Regions from separate parts of the Homo sapiens genome. Here region 2 is linked to region 1. Evidence: fine-mapped expression QTL. Tissue or cell type: adrenal gland. Region 1 holds a variant in brackets; the other region holds the start of a gene. All regions are shown on one strand. Distances are between the middles of the regions.

Region 1 (8,105 bases):
AGATTGCTTGAGCCCAGGCGTTCGAGACCAGCCTGGGCAACATGGTGAAACTCATCTCTACAAAAAATACAAAAATTAGCCTGGCATGGTGACACACGCCTGTAGTCCCAGATACTTGGGGGCCTGGGGGTGAGGATCACTTGAGCCCAGGAGGTTGAGGTTGCAGTGAGCTGTATTCTTAACACTGCACTCCAGCCTGGGGAACAGAGTGAGACCCTGTCTCAAAAAAAGAAAAAAAAAAAGATGTTTTAAAAACGAAGCATATGCAATCACATTCTCTTGTGAAAAAATTAATAATAAAATTTTAATGAATATCCAAATAGTTTTGTACTACAAGCATTATAAAACTGTAAATTATTTTAAACTATATTTTATCTTTGTCTCATCCTTTTAAAATTTCCTTTTTGTGTATGCTTTATAATATACATATTTCATAGAGTAATACACACACATCATTTTGAAATTGCAAAATATTCACGAATGTTGAGAATATCTGCTCAAAATATTTTTATTATAGGGGCATGCAATTTAAAACGTTGGGACACCAGCCTTGGCAATATGGTGAGATCCCATCTCTAAAACAATTTTTAAAAAATTAGCTGGGACTGGGTGCAGTGGCTCACGCCTGTAATCCCAGCACTTTGGGAGGCCAAGGCAGGCGAATCTCCTGAGGTCAGGAGTTTGAGACAACATGGCGAAACCCTGCCTCTACTAAAAATCAAAAAAATTAGCTGGGCGTGGTGGTGGGCACCTGTAATCCCAGCTACTCGGGAGGCTGAGGCAGGAGAATCGCTTGAACCCGGAAGGTGGAGGTTGCAGTGAGCCAAGATGGCATCATGGCACTCCAGCCTGGGCAACAAGAGCGAAATTCTGTCTCAAAAAACAAACAATTAGCTGGGCATGGTGGCACATGCCTGTACTCCCAGCTACTCAGGAGGCTGAGGTGGGAGGATGGTTTGAGCCCAGGAGTTAGAAGCTGCAGTGAGCTATGATGGTGCCACTGCACTCCAGCCTGGGTGACACAGCCAGATTCCCATCTCAAAAAAAAAAAAATTGGAGATTATTGCTTTAATATCTACCATAATGTTAAGCATCATGAATGTGATGTGATTAGCATAGTGTTTGGCACATATTAAGGCCTCAATGAGTGTTGGCTTTTACAACATCCTCTATGTAAATGAGGGATGCATTAGACCCAGTGTAACATGATGGTTAAAAGTATGAGCCTTGGAATCAGTTGAAGCTGGATGGGTTTCCTGCCAATTACTAGCTGTGTGAACGTGGTCAATTAACTTCATTGGGCCTCAGATTCTCATTAGTCTCTTAGAGTTGTTGTAAAGATTAAGGGACATAATGCACTTTATGGCAACAGCTTTACTGAGCTATAATTCACATACCATACAATTCACTTTTTTTTTTAAACGAAGTTTAGCTTTCGTTGGGCAGGCTGGGGTGTAATGGTGTGATCTCGGCTCACTGCAACTTCCACTTCCCAGGTTCAAGCGATTTTCCTGCCTCAGCCTCCTGCGCAGCTGGGATTACAGGCATGCACCACCAAGCCCGGCTAATTTTGTATTTTTAGTAGAGATGGGGTTTCATCAAGTTGGCCAGGCTGGTCTTGAACTCCTGAGCTCAGGTGATCTGCCCACCTCGGCCTCCCACCGTGCTTGGATTACAGCCATGAGCCACTGCGCCCAGCAACTCACCACTTTAAAGTGTATATTTCAGTGCTTTTTAGTATATTCACAAGGCTGTGCAACCATCACCGTGTCTGGAATTGGTGGGTTTTTGGTCTCACTGACTTCAAGAAGGAAGCCGCGGACCCTCGCGGTGAGTGTTACAGCTCTTAAGGTGGCGCGTCTGGAGTCTGTCCCTTCTGATGTTCAGATGTGTTTGGAGTTTTTTTCTTCTGGTGGGTTCGTGGTCTCACTTGCTCAAGAGTGAAGCTGCAGACCTTCCCGGTGAGTGTTACAGCTCTTACGGCAGCGCGTGGGGAGTTGTTCATTCCTCCCAGTGGGCTCGTAGTCTCACTGGGCTCAGGCGTGAAGCTGCAGATTTTGGCGGTTAAGTGTTACAGCTCATAAAAGCAGCGTGGACCTAAAGAGTAAGCATTAGCAAGATTTATTGCAAAGAGTGAAAGAACAAAGCTTCCACAGTGTGGTAAGGGACGGGAGCGGGTTGTCAATGCTGCTTCGGGCAGCCTGCTTTTATTCTCTTATCTGGCCCCACCCACATCCTGCTGATTGGTAGAGCCCAGTGGCCTGTTTGGTCAGGGCGCTGATTGGTGCGTTTACAATCCCTGAGCTAGATACAAAGGTTCTCCACGTCCCCATCAGATTAGTTAGATACAGAGTTTTGACACACAGGTTCTCCAAGGCCCCACCAGAGCAGCTAGATACAGAGTGTCGATTGGTGCATTCAAAACCTTGAGCTAAACACAGGGTGCTGATTGGTGTGTTTACAAACCTTGAGCTAGATACAGAGTGCCGATTGGTGTATTTACAATCCCTGAGCTAGACATAAAGGTTCTCCAAGGCCCCACCAGAGCAGCTAGATACAGAGTGTCGATTGGTGCACTCACAAACCTTGAGCTAAACACAGGGTGCTGATTAGTGTATTTACAATCCCTCAGCTAGACATAAAGACTCTCCACTTCCCCACCAGACTCAGGAGCCCAGCTGGCTTCACCTAGTGGATCCCGCACTGGGGCCGCAGGTGGAGCTGCCTGCCAGTCCCGTGCCGTGTGCTTGCACTTCTCAGCCCTTGGGCGGTCGATGGGACTGGGCGCCGTGGAGCAGGGGGTGGTGCTCGTCGGGGAGGCTGGGGCCGCACAGGAGCCCATGGAGTGGGTGGGAGGCTCAGGCATGGCGGGCTGCAGGTCCCGAGCCCTGCCCCGCGGGAAGGCAGCTAAGGCCCAGCGAGAAATCCAGCACAGCGCCGGTGGGCCGGCACTGCTGGGGGACCCAGTACACCCTCCACAGCCACTGGCCACTGGCCTGGGTGCTAAGTCCCTCATTGCCCGGGGCCGGCAGGGCCGGCCGGCTGCTCCGAGTGCGGGGCCCGCCAAGCCCACGCCCACCCAGAACTCCAGCTGGCCCGCAAGCGCTGCGCGCAGCCCCGGTTCCTGCTCGCGCCTCTCCCTCCACACCTCCCTGCAAGCTGAGGGACCTGGTTCTGGTCTTGGCCAGCCCAGAAAGGGGCTCCCTCAGTGCAGCGGCGGGCGGAAGGACTCCTCAAGTGCCGCCAAAGTGGGAACCCAAGCAGAGGAGGCGCCGAGAGCAAGCGAGGGCTCTGAGGACTGCCAGCACGCTGTCACCTCTCATCACCACTATCTAATTCCAGAATATTTTCAACACCCCCAAAGAAACCCATACCCATTAGCAATCATTCTCTATTCTCCCTCTTCCCTCATGCCTGCCTTGACAACCACTGACCTACTTTCTGTTTGTATGGATTTGCCTCGTCTGGACATCTCCTGTAGGAATCAGAAGAGTCTTTTGTGTCTGGTTCTTTCACTTAGCATAGTATTTTTCACATTCCTCCATGTTGTAGCATGTGTCAGTTATTTCGTTCCTTATTTTTTATTTATTTATTTTTTTTGAGACGGAGTCTTGCTCTGTCGCCCAGGCTGGCGTGCAGTGGCGCGATCTCGGCCCACTGCAAGCTCCGCCTTCCCGGTTCACGCCATTCTCCTGCTTCAGCCTCCGGAGTAGCTGGGACTACAGGTGCCCGCCACTATGCCCAGCTAATTTTTTGTATTTTTAGTAGAGA[C/T]GGGGTTTCACCGTGTTAGCCAGGATGGTCTTGATCTCCTGACCTCGTGATCCGCCCTCCTTGGCCTCCCAAAGTGCTGGGATTACAGGCGTGAGCCACCGCGCCCGGCCTTTTTTTTTTTTTTCCGAGACTGAGTCTCGCTTTATCACCCAGGCTGGAGGGCAGTGGCGCAATCTTGGCTCACTGCAACCTCCGCCTCCAGGGTTCAAGCGATTCTCATGACTCAGCCTCCCAAGTAAGTGGGATTACAGGCGCCCACCACCACGCCCAGCTAATTTTTGGGGTTTGTTGTTGTTGTTGTTTTTGAGATGGAGTCTCGTTCTGTCTCCCAGGCTGGAGTGCAGTGGCACAATCTTGGCTCACTGCAACCTTCACCTCCCAGGTTCAAGCAATTCTCCTGTCTCAGCCTCCAGCATAGCTGGGACTGCAGGCACGCACCACCATGCCCGGATAATTTTTGTAGTTTTAGTAGAGATGGTGTTTTACCATATTGGTCAGGCTGGTCTCAAACTCCTGACCTCAGGTGATCCACCCACCTCGGCATCCCAAAGTGCTGGGATTACCGGTGTGAGCCACTGCATCTGGCAATTTTTGTATTTTCTTTTTTCAGTAAAGACAGGGTTTTACCATGTTGGCCAGGCTGGTCTCGAACTCCTGATCTTAGGTGATCTGCCCGACTCAGCCTCCCAAAGTGCTGGGATTACAGGCGTGAGCCACTGTGCCTGGCCTATTTCATTCCTTTGTATGGCCAAATAACATTCCATGGTATGGATATACTATGGATATCGGGATTGTTTCTACCTTTTGGCTATTGTAAATAGTTCTGCTGTGACCATTCATGTATGAAAATGCATATTTAATGCTTGGCACAGGACCTAAGTCACCAGCCACCTAAGTGCTTAATGAACAGTAGGCAGCTGTAATCACTGTTATTACAGAGTGCTACGTTAGGTGATCTGGGGTACAGGATGCCTGGATGTCAGAAATAGATGGCTGAAGGCGCCAAGGACAACATTTACCCACTGCACAATTTTATTAAGAGCTGTTCCTGTCAGCCGTACCCAAATGTACAGTATGGCAGCATCAAACAGAGGCATGAGCACGGACCCTGCTCTACCACTTTCGAGACGCGTGACCCTGGGCAGGCCACTTAACCTCCCTCAGCCTTGTGTGTGAATTGCATATAAATACTGTCTTCTCTACATATCTCACAAGCTTGCTGTCTGGGTCAAGAGATAATTAAAAATATGAAAGCACTCTGAAAACTAAGAGTTTATTATTCCAAGCCTTACGTATGACAGAAGCCAACTGATAAAGTAAGGAAGGAACCACTTTGTACTGCTCACTGGCCTCCCCCTCTCTCCTGATGGTTCACATTCCTTTCAAGATGAGGCCAGCCCCCTCACCCCTAGGGCTAGTACCTTCTTCCCAGCAACTACTTAAGGGCCAATGACCTGCTCCAGGGTAGAAGCCTGAATTCATATAAACAAAGGGCTTATTGCTGGGCGCAGTAGCTCACGCCTGTAACCCCAGCACTTTGGGAGGCAGAGGTGGGTGGATCACTTGAGGCCAGGAGTTCAAGACCAGCCTGGCCAACACAGGGGAATGACATCTCTACTAAAAATACAAAAATTAGCTGGGTGTGGTGGTACACACCTGTAATCCCAGCTACTCGGGAGTCTGAGGCAAGAGAATCGCTTGAACCTGGGAGGCAGAGGTTGCAGTGAGCCGAGATCGTGCCACTGCATTCCAGCCTGGGTGACAGAGTGAGACTGTCTCAAAACAAAACAAAACAAAACAAAACAAAAGGGCCTGTTGCTGGGCGCGGTAGCTCATGCCTGTAATCCCAGCACTTTGGGAGGCTGAGGTGGGAGGATCGCTTGACCCTAGGAGTTCAAGACCAGCCTGGGCAACATAGCGAGACCCTGTCCTAAAAAAAAAAAAAATTAAACAAAGGGCCTGCCATGCCTCTTTCGTTGCCTACAGGTTGAAACAGACACAGCCTTTCTACTTTTCTCAGTTGCTAGTTGGTCAGAGCGCCCTCATGTGTCTCCATATGGTAATACCTTAAGTCTTTTACAGGATGTGGCATTCTTTTAATCTCAGTATCAATAAAATGTGTAATGGAAATTTTTTTCTCGTCACACTTCAAAGCCCATGCTTGACTCTCAGGCTCCAATTAAGCCATTCCAGCTTGAGTTTAGGCAGGTTTCCTGCTTCCACTCAGGCCTACAGATTTCTTCCTGCTCCCTGCCCACCCCTTTCTCCTTAGTCATTTTTAGAAGCCCTGGTGTCAACTTGGTTCTACCACTTTCTACTCTTCCAAGCTCAGTAAGCTCTCAAAATAAGATTGTAAGTTCTTTTTTTAACTGGATACATCAGGTCTTACTGCAGGATTGGCGGGGGAGGGGGGTGGGAAGGTGGGGGTAATTCCAAAGTACTAGGAAATAATTTTTAAAGTGTTTACCAAATATGACTTGTTCCATAGTCTAAGGAAAAGGGATCCAAAATGAGATCTCATGTAAAGGTCTGACATTTGGGAAGGGGAAAGTGATGTTTGGCAGAGTACATACACACAGACACATACACATTATACACACAACCAGACAGTGATGTCTGGTACACATACATACCACTCAAACATCCATTCTTGCACACACATTCACATGCAAACAGAGAGAAAGGAGCTCTCTCTCTTTCATAGGTTTCTCATTGAGAATCATGATGATATCAGCACAGGTCTTTGGAGGAAAGGAAATTTACATTCTATATCTGGAACCCCAAGAATGTTCCAGCCGTGTGTGGTGGCTCACACCACCGGGTGTGGTGGGAGGCCAAGGTGGGTGGATCACTTGGGGCCAGGAGTTCGAGACCAGCCTGGCCAACATGGTAAAACCCCGTCTCTACTAAAAATACAAAATTTAGCTGAGAATGGTGGTGCACGTCTGTAATCCCAGCTACTCAGGAGGCTGAGGCATGAGAATCACTTGAACCAGAGAGGCGGAGGTTGCAGTGAGCCGAGATCACACCACACTGCACTCCAGCCTAGGCAACAGATGGGACTCCGTCTCAAAAAAAAAGAAAGAAAGAAAAAAAAAAGAATGTTCCCCATTCCCTCCATGACCGAGGGTTATGGACGCCTGAGGGACTTTACTTCCCATATTCCACACATCTGCTTCTCAACTGTTTTGCACTCATGGATTTTTCTGAATCCATAAGCCCCCGGGGCAAACTCCATTGAGAGCCCAAGGATACACCAGCATTTGGCTTCGCCCAAGGAGCATGTTTCTGAGAAGTTTCATGTAAATTAAATTTTTGCAGATCAACTATGATTTCCTACTGACATCCCCTAAGATTTCTGAGCTGCTCTCTTCATCAAGATAGATTTTCAGTGTACGCCTAACACATCAGCTTCTCTGTTCCTCTGCCTTCTGCCATGCTCCCTGAGTTAGTTAAACCTCATCTGGAAAATAAAGGCCAATGAAACATTAAGATCTCTTCTAGTTCTTTTTTTTTTTTTTTTTTTGAGACGGAGTCTCGCTCTGTCACCCACACTACAGTGCAGTGGCGTGATCTCAGCTCACTGCAAGCTCCACCTCCCGGGTTCACGCCATTCTCCTGCCTCAGCCTCCCGAGTAGCTGGGACTACCCACCACCACGGCCGGCTAAGTTTTCGTATTTTTTAGTAGAGACGGGGTTTCACCGTGTTAGCCAGGATGGTCTCGATCTCCTGACCTCGTGATCAGCCTGCCTCGGCCTCCCAAAGTATTGGGATTACAGGCATGAGCCACCGCGCCCAGCCGATCTCTTCTAGTTCTAATAGTCCAAGATCTAGTAAATAAACCCACAAATATATTAGAGAGGCTGCTATTTGGAAAAGACATCAGTATTATTACAATTTGCAATGCAAATATCTACTCTACCTCCAGCTTTTTGGGAAGTCATTTCCCAGGGCTTGAGGGGTTTTTGCCCCACTCCCTTGGAGGGGTAGCAGATGTTTCAGATAACTGGCATGTTAATTTTAGGTGGGTGGGTACTATCCCTTCTGTTTTCCACTCCCTCTGCCCTACTCCCTGCTATCAAATTCCTGAGACCCTCTCTACTAAAATAGAGATGGGTGTTGCGGTTCTGGGGAGTGGTGTGTGCAGCTGGTGACCTAGGGTAGAAAGCACTTGCTAATTAAAGATGAAACAAGTTGCTAGGGAGGCACCGTGGCTTTGGTCTCTAGCAGCAGAGTTAAGCAAGGGCACATGTATCATGGGTCTGTGGCACTGGTCAGGCGGCTGCCTTTGCAATCTTTGAACTGGAAACAGATATTATTCATGCTGATAGGG
Region 2 (8,105 bases), 100 kb after region 1:
GAGAGAGAGAGAAGAAAAAGAAAAAAAACAAAAATAAAAACCAAAAAACAAAACTGTGATATATTTGAGAAGGAATAGATAAACCAGACTGAAACAGAGGGAAATTGTGGAAGACAGGCTGAAGAAACAGAAGTGAGGCCAGAATATGGAGGACCCTGACTACCAGGCTAAGGAGTTTGGACTTTTTCCCCCAACTGTTAATTTAAATCATTATTTTCAAAAAGATTAATTTCATGGCAATATAATAGACTGAATTATACAAGAATGAAAAAAATGGAAAATCCTGTAAGTTTAGAGACAGTGGTTGTCTAGGCATTAAGTGATGAGGACATAAAGTGTGACTGTTTAAGGCTAGGTGAACAAGATATTAAAAAAAAACAATAAAATCCAGCCTGGGCAACATAAGCAGACCTTGTCTCTAAGATTTAAAAACAAAACAAAACAAACAAACAAACAAAAAACACAATGAGGAAAGGATAGTCTCTTTAATAAGTGGTGTTGAGCTGGGTATGGTGGCTCGCACCTGTAATCCCAGCACTTTGGGAGGCTGAGGTGGGGGGGGGGAAATCACTTGAGCCCAGGAGTTCAAGACCAGCCTGGGCAACGTAGTGAGACCCCATCTCTATAAAAAATTTAAAGAAAATTAGCCAGGCATGGTGACATACATCTGTAGTCCCAGCTACTCAGGAGGCTGAGGTGGGAGGATTGCTTGAGTCCAGGAATTCCAGGCTGCAGTGAGCTCTGATTGCGCCACAGCACTCCAGCCTGGGTGGAGACCCTATCTCAAAAGATAAACAATAAATTGACAAGATTCATAACTTACATGTAAGAGATTTTTAAAAAAGGAAAAAATTAAACACAACTCAGATTTCCAGGCTAAGTAACTAGAATCTAGTTAAATATCTACTGGAATAAAATAGTTGGAGTGGAAAAATAGCTGGCTTGGGGAGATTAATAAAAGTTGGACAAACAGTGGCAATCCTTCAATTTTTACTGGCATAGTCCCTGACAAAAATTTAATTTTTACCAACTTTGAAGTAATATTGAAAAAAACAAAACAAAACAAGAAGACACACTATTTACCTATAATTGCAAACCAAAAAGAAAAGTGGCAAATGGCAGCTTAGATATTCTCTGGCTAAATGTAGGTAGCAGATAATAGAGTGTTAAAGTAGAAATGTGTCTTCCCTATAGACTGGACCTTTCTGGATATAAAGTAAGAGATGTATCAAGTTTCTTTTTTTCGATTTTGAGACAGAGTCTCGCTCTGTCGCCAGGCTGGAGTGCAGTGGCGTGATCTCAGCTCACTGCAACCTCTGCCTCCCAGGTTCAAGCGATTCTTCTGCCTCAGCCTCCCAAGTAGCTGGGATTACAGGCGTGGACCGCCACGCCTGGCTAATTTTTTTAGCATTTTTAGTAGAGATGGGGTTTCACCACGTTGGCCAGGCTGGTCTCGATCTCCTGACCTCGTGATCCACCTGCCTCGGCATCCCAAAGTGCTGGGATAACAGGCGTGAGCCACCACACCAGGCCGAGATGTATCAAGTTTCATGTTTTAATTATATACAACTTTGTGAGAATGTTAAACAGTATCCCAATTGGGAACTGTTGGCTTAATGGATTTGAATTAAATAAATGTTTGTCCTCGAAGCAAAATAAGAAGTAAATATTTAAAACTTATCAAACAAGTTTAAGAGTCACTTATCAGTACTGCGGCTGAAATTCTACAGTCAAAACAGCAGGTTTAAGCCAGGGCAAAAAATGTGTCACACGAGGAGAAAACAGTTGCAATTTCACTCAGTTGATCAAACTAAAAAAATAGTAGGTTAATAAAAATAACCAAGGACTGTGAAAAGTCACGTCTATTTATAAGACTGCAATAAGCTTATTAAATGTGTAAAACTCTAGGAAGCAACGCAATGCACGAGTTGTCTTAAACATACAAATGACAAAGAAATTCCCTTTTTACTTCAGTTACCAGGACTCACCTTTATTGTCAAGGAATACATAACCATCAAAGCGATCCCTGAACAAAATAATGTCCTCTTGGTTTTTAAAGTTGATGTATGCTCTGGCATACATATGAGGATACAAACTGCAGAGAGGAAAGCAATTATGTAAATGTACTCGCAGGTGTCTGGCCCAATTACAAGTATGCATATATTAAAGACAAGCTCAAAAATCAAATGAAAAACAGTAGGATAAAAAGAATGAAAGAAACCTTTTTCATTTACCCCTTTCCTTTTTTTTTTTTTTTTACCTCGTATCATTAGAAAAAAACTCAAAATAATCATGCTCAGGCATAGGTTGAAGATGTTCCTGAAGCTGCTCCTTGGTCAAAGTGGGAGGTAATCTTCGAATTACCACCTTAAGAAATGCATAAGGAAAATAAAATTAGTACAAATCAGTTTTCTGTCATACCTGAAAGAATCACAGTTCCTGAAGAAGGCTGGGCTTTAAAATATGAGATCACTTGTAAAAACCCAGGAGAAAATATTCTTCTGCAGCCCAATGCTCAGAATTAGTCAAACATAATAGTAACGCGGTTTAAAAAAACCCTTGGAAATGAGAACCACCTGGAGCAAGGAAAAATCGCAGGTTTTGCTCTTTACAGCAGCCCTGCAGTTTACCAGGTTTGTGCATCATTTTCGATCACCCATTTTTTAACAGATCTAGTGGCAATAACTTAGTAAGCCAACGCTGGTCTTTGTGGGTGCCACGAAATCTTGATTTAGCAACAAGTTTCTCCCACGTCCAACACATCTTAAAACAAAATCCTTGCCCATTGAACTTAAGAATTCAAAACTCTAACGAATACAAAAAATCTACCCATTGCTCTCAAAATAGGATGCTCTCGATCTACCCTCCTGTACCATTAATCACCCTGCACTCTCCCCCAACTCGCCTCCATGAATAATATTCCCATCCCTCATGTCTCCTTCACTATTTAATATTTCTCCCCAATTACACCTTTAGTTCCTCATTCTTTATACCGTCGCTCTTCCCTCCCATTATCATCTCACAGCTCTGACCTAAACCCTTCCCGTTTGGGGAGTCCCCTCTTTTCCTCACCCCCACCCAGGATTTGGCCGGGAGGGGCTCTCCCCATTTCGGGTGAATGGATGAACCAGGATGATGCGACTTCCATTCAGGCGAAGAGATAGAAGGAGAACCTGAGAAAGAAAGGGGGCAGCCCCATTCCCAGCCATCCTCCCCGCGCTGCGGACTCGTCCCGCCCTCTCCCGGGCCAGCGGCCGACCGGGCACCTTGCTCAGCGCTTCTTTCTTCTCCTTGTTGCGATCCTGCTTATCTTCCCCCTTGGAGCTGTCCCCCGAGGTCCCACCACCGCTGCCTGTGGCCCCGGCGGGGGTTAACAGGGTTACTCGCTTCTCCTTAGGCCTGTGCTCCTTCTCTTCCTTCATGGCTACGTCCCCCGCTGAAGCGGCTTGGCCGGAACGGGGTTACCCCGGGCACAAACGGCTCCCGGGAAGCTCCCGTCAAAGCTCCGCCCCCAACAAATGCCCCTTGTGATAAGTCGGGCCCCACGTTCCATTGGGTCCTGCCAAGCTCTCGCGAGACTTGGGCCTTTCCCAGTGCAAAGGTTTTAACACCTGGTTTTTACTTCCCGCCCGCCAAGTTCCTGCGCCACCCAATCCCCTCGCGGCCCAGACTCCCTCGGGGCCCGCCCCTTCGCGCGTCATTAGCAATTCCGCCATCTTGAAGTGACTCTGTCGGGGACTACAAATCCCGGCATACAAAGCAGCTACCCGCTTTTGTTGGGCGTTCAGGGGCCAGAGCTATCTCAGGGTCCCTGTTTGTGAGTAAATCGAATCCTTTCATCTTCAGAGTTTTCCAGGTCGAAAGATAGGTTCTTCACGCTTAGTTTCCATCAGATAAACTCAATGCCGTCCAAATTTTGCCTCACTAGGGGAGCGACTTGTATTTTTTATCATTGAATTCAGAGGCTTTAGCATTTATTTTCCTACAACTAAAAGAAAAAGCCTAACATTTAAAAAACTTTATTTTCCTTATATTGATTAGGATTTACAGATACTTAGTAAATACTACAATATTAGCCGAGTTCAGTGGCGCACGCCTGTAGTCCCAGCTGCTCGGGAAGGTTGAGAAGAGAGGATCTTGAGCCCAGGAATTCGAGGCTGCAGTGAGCCATGATCGCGCCGCTGCACTCCAGCTTGGGCGACAGAGCGAGACCCTGTATATAAAAAAGAAGGATAATAATAAATAAACACAAGATACTGATATTTAAAGGAGTAATATGACTAAAATATACAAGATTTGTTTTCATCACCTTATTTTAGCAAAAGGATCCTTCTCCCCAGGTACTGATGTCCCACAGGGAGGGGAATAAAAATAAAACCCAACTTGATTTAGTTGCGATCACCATCTTCACTTAAAAAGGGCCAATTTTACATTATTTATAATAACTCCAAACTGGAAACAATCCAAATGTGAATCTAACAGTGATTATGTTGAGTGACAGAATCTAGACACAGAGTACATGTTGTACAATTCCATTTATATGAAATTTTAGAAAAATAAAACCACAGTGATAGAAAGCAGATCAGTCGGCCAGGCGTGGTGGCTCACGCCTGTAATCCCAGCACTTTAGGAGGCCAAGGTGGGTGGATCACCTGAGGTCAGGAGTTCGAGACCAGCCTGGCTAACTTGGCGAAACCCTGTCTCTACTAAAAACAAAAAAAATTAGCAGGGCGTGGTGGCACATTCCTGTAATCCCAGCACTTTGAGAGGCCGAGGCCGGCGGATCACCTGAGATCAGGAGTTCGACACCAGCCTGGCCAACTTGGTGAAACCCTGTCTCTACTAAAATACAAAAATTATCTGGGCATGGTGGCAGGCGCCTGTAGTCCCAGCTATTTGGGAGGCTGAGGCAGGAGAGTCACTTGAACCTGGGAGGCGGAGGTTGCAGTGAGCCGAGGTTGTGCCACCGCACTCCAACCTGGGTGACAGAGTGAGACTCCATCTCAAAAAGAGAGAGAGACACAGACACCCATAGAGGACAGAAACCAAATTAAAGATGCAATAGGAGCCCAAGGCAGAAAGCTGCCTAAGGGCCAACTCCCATTTTTGCCGACCTCTAGAATATATTCCCCTGACTCTGCACTTAAATTTTCTCACTCCAATTGTCCAGCCTATTCTTGGATTCCTATTCCTGTGGCTAAAACGGTTTCCCTGTATTTGACATCTGTTACTCTTGCTTTCAGTACCTGGCCGTTCTTATGAGCCTTGTTTATGCATCTGCCTCTGACCTACTGCTTAGCTCTGCACTTGCATGTTGGTAGTGTATGCCTCTGTTTTGGTGTCCTCACTAGCTTTAAACCACCAGCTGTTTGTCAGTTGCCAGAATAAAGTGTCCCAGGGCTCAGTCCTTAGACCTCTTTTCTATGTACACTCACTCCTTTATTAATCTCATTCATTCTTTTGGCTTTTCTGTCTTTGCTGACAACTCTACTCTAGAATTTACATGTCCAGGCCGGGCGTGGTGGCTCACAGCTGTAATCTCAGCACTTTGGGAGGCCGAGGCGGGTGGATCACCTGAGGTCGGGAGTTCGAGACCAGCCTGGCCAACATGTGACATCCCGTCTCTACTAAAAATACAAAAAAATTAGCCGGGCGTGGTGGCAGGCAGCTATAATCCCAGCTACTCAGGAGGCTGAGGCAGGTGATTCGCTTGAACCCAGGAGGTCGAGGTTGCAGTGAGCCGAGATTGTGCCAGTGCACTCCAGTCTGGGCGACAGAGCGAGACTCCGTCTCAAAACCAAAACAAAACAAAAAAAGAATTTACATCTCCAGCCCATACCTCCCTGATGATTTCCAGAGTCATGTATCCAACTGCCTATTGAACATCTCCACTTAAGACGTCTAACGTGTTCAGCCACCGAATGCATCCAAAACTGAACACTTGATCTTCCCCCACACCAACTGTATTAGCCTCCTATTCCTGCTGTAACATTACCACAAATTTAGTGGGTTTAAATAATGCAAGTGTATTATCTTACAGTTCTGTAGGTTAAAAGTCCAACAAGGTTTTAGCTTTGTCCTGTGAGGGGGCAAAAAAATATAGTAATAATAAATAAACAAACAGTCCAATATGGGTCTCACTGGGCTAAAATCAAGGTGTTGGCAGGACTGAGTTCCTTCCTGGAGGCTCTAGGAGATAATAGATTTCCTTGTCTTTTTCAGATTCTTGAGGCGGCCCATATTCCTTGGCTTATGAACCCTTCGTCTTCAAGCATCTCTCTCTGACCCTGCCCCTACTTCTGTCTATTGTCTATATCTCTTTTATTCTCTGCCTTGCCATTCCAAGTTTTTTTTTCAGGGTCACAGTTCACTGAAGGCTTAAACTCCTGAGCTGAAGTGATCCTCCTGCCTTAGCCTCCCAAATAGCTGGGACTACAGGTGCATGCCACCATGCCCAGCTAATTTATTTTCATTTTTGTAGAGAAGGGGTCTCACTGTGTTGCCCAGGCTGGTCTCCAACTCCTGGCCTCTGCACTTTCCCCTTTCACTTTGAAGGACTCCTGTGTTTACATTGTGTCCGCCTGTAAAATCCAGGATAATCTCCCTATTTTAAGGACAGCTGATTAGCAACATTAATTTCCTTTTGCTATATAACCTAACACAGTCATGGGTTCTGGGGATTAGGATGTGTACAACTTTGGGGGAGATATTATTCTACCTAACACATACTGTAGACTTCCTTTTTGATGAAACTTTTAATTGCAGTATAACAGATGTACAGACAAGTGCACTAAAAGTAAGCATCCAGCTTGCTGAATTTTCACAAAGTGAACACACTTATGTAACCAGCATGTAGATCAAGAAACAAAACATTGCCAGCACTCCAGATGCTCTCTTCCTACTTGTTCCCAGTCATTTTCGCCACCAAGAATACCACTATCCTTTTTGCTTTTTCTTTTTTAGCAGCTACATCCTTTTATGAATGACTTCTAATACTATTGAGTTTGTCTGTTTTGAACTTTATGTAAATTGAATCATACAGCATGTATTCTTTTATGTTAGGCTCCTTTCTCTCAACATTTATGACTGAGATTTCTTTATTTATTTATTTAGAGACGGAATCTCGCTCTGTCGCCCAGGCTGAGGTGCAGTGGCGCCATCTTGGCTTACATCTTGGCTCACTGCAACCTCCACCTCCCGGGTTCAAGCGATTCTTCTGCCTCAGCCTCCCGAGTAGCTGGGAGTACAGGCGTGTGCCACCACGCCCGGCTAATTTTTGTATTTTTAGTAGAAATGGGGTTTCACCATATTGGCTGTTGGATACAGTGAGATCTAGATCTCTCTTCAAAGAATCAGTATGTCAGTATGTTCAGTTCTTTGTCCTCCATTGTAAAGTTTAACTTCCTCGTAGTTTCAGTAAACAACATTTTCCACCAGTTTTCATCAGTAGTTCACATCTGTTCCCCTGGTTACCTGCTCCGTCCTGACTCACCCCGGTCATCCGCTTTGACCTGAGTCACCCCTGGTCCCTGCTCTGACCTAAGTCACCTTTAGTTACCTGTTCCTAACCGTCCTTCCCACCAAACTATTCACCCCGCCACTCTGGCTCATACCCCTGGTCTCTTTAAAGTAGCCAATCAGAATTAGCTTAGACTGTGCAGTCCAACCCTAGCCAATAGGGGAGCGACACAGCAGTAGGGGCTACCTGTGTCAGGAATAAGAACCCCTTCCCCTCCCTTGTTCAGGTGTGCTCTTGCCATTACTCCATTCACGAGTCGCACCCTTCTATAGAAGTAAAAATTGTCTTGCTGTGAAAATTAAATTTATGTTCGAGTGCTATTTCTTTGTGGCACCGAGGAACAAGCATTTTGTTTCTAACATTGGCCAAGCTGGTCTTGAACTCCTGACCTCGTGATCCGCCCGCCTCGGCCTCCCAAAGTGCTGGGATTACAGGCTTGAGCCACCACGCCCAGCTTATTTATGTTATATGTAGCTGTGGATTATTCCTTTTCACTGTTACATAATATTCCATTGTATGAGTCTGCTGCAATTTATCCCACTCTTAGGGGCTAATACAAATAGTGCTGCTGGGATTTTAGTGCATA

Alleles and levels. Alleles are on the strand shown, and positions count from the first base shown. SD is a standard deviation of normalised expression in the study named.
With allele T in place of C in region 1, the expression in adrenal gland of the gene that starts at base 3,457 in region 2 is higher (small effect, 0.38 SD a copy in GTEx).

Evidence for each region. PIP is the estimated chance that this variant, and not a neighbour inherited with it, causes the effect.
Region 2: UPF3B starts here. The variant in region 1 is fine-mapped to the expression of UPF3B in adrenal gland (GTEx, PIP 0.98). The same link has a PIP of 0.9 or more in skeletal muscle.

The regions. Positions count from the first base shown.
Region 1 is chrX:119,748,072-119,756,176 of GRCh38, forward strand. No RefSeq gene overlaps it. Among named protein-coding and RNA genes, the nearest start is that of SOWAHD, 6.5 kb to the right of the region's middle. RefSeq lists an enhancer at 8,041-8,100. The variant C/T (reference allele first, on the strand shown) is at 3,772.
Region 2 is chrX:119,849,507-119,857,611 of GRCh38, forward strand. It overlaps UPF3B (UPF3B regulator of nonsense mediated mRNA decay), which reads right to left and starts at 3,457. Exons shown (of 11, transcript NM_080632.3): 1 at 3,267-3,457; 2 at 2,261-2,367; 3 at 1,989-2,095. The coding sequence starts at 3,422. RefSeq lists an enhancer at 3,432-3,491.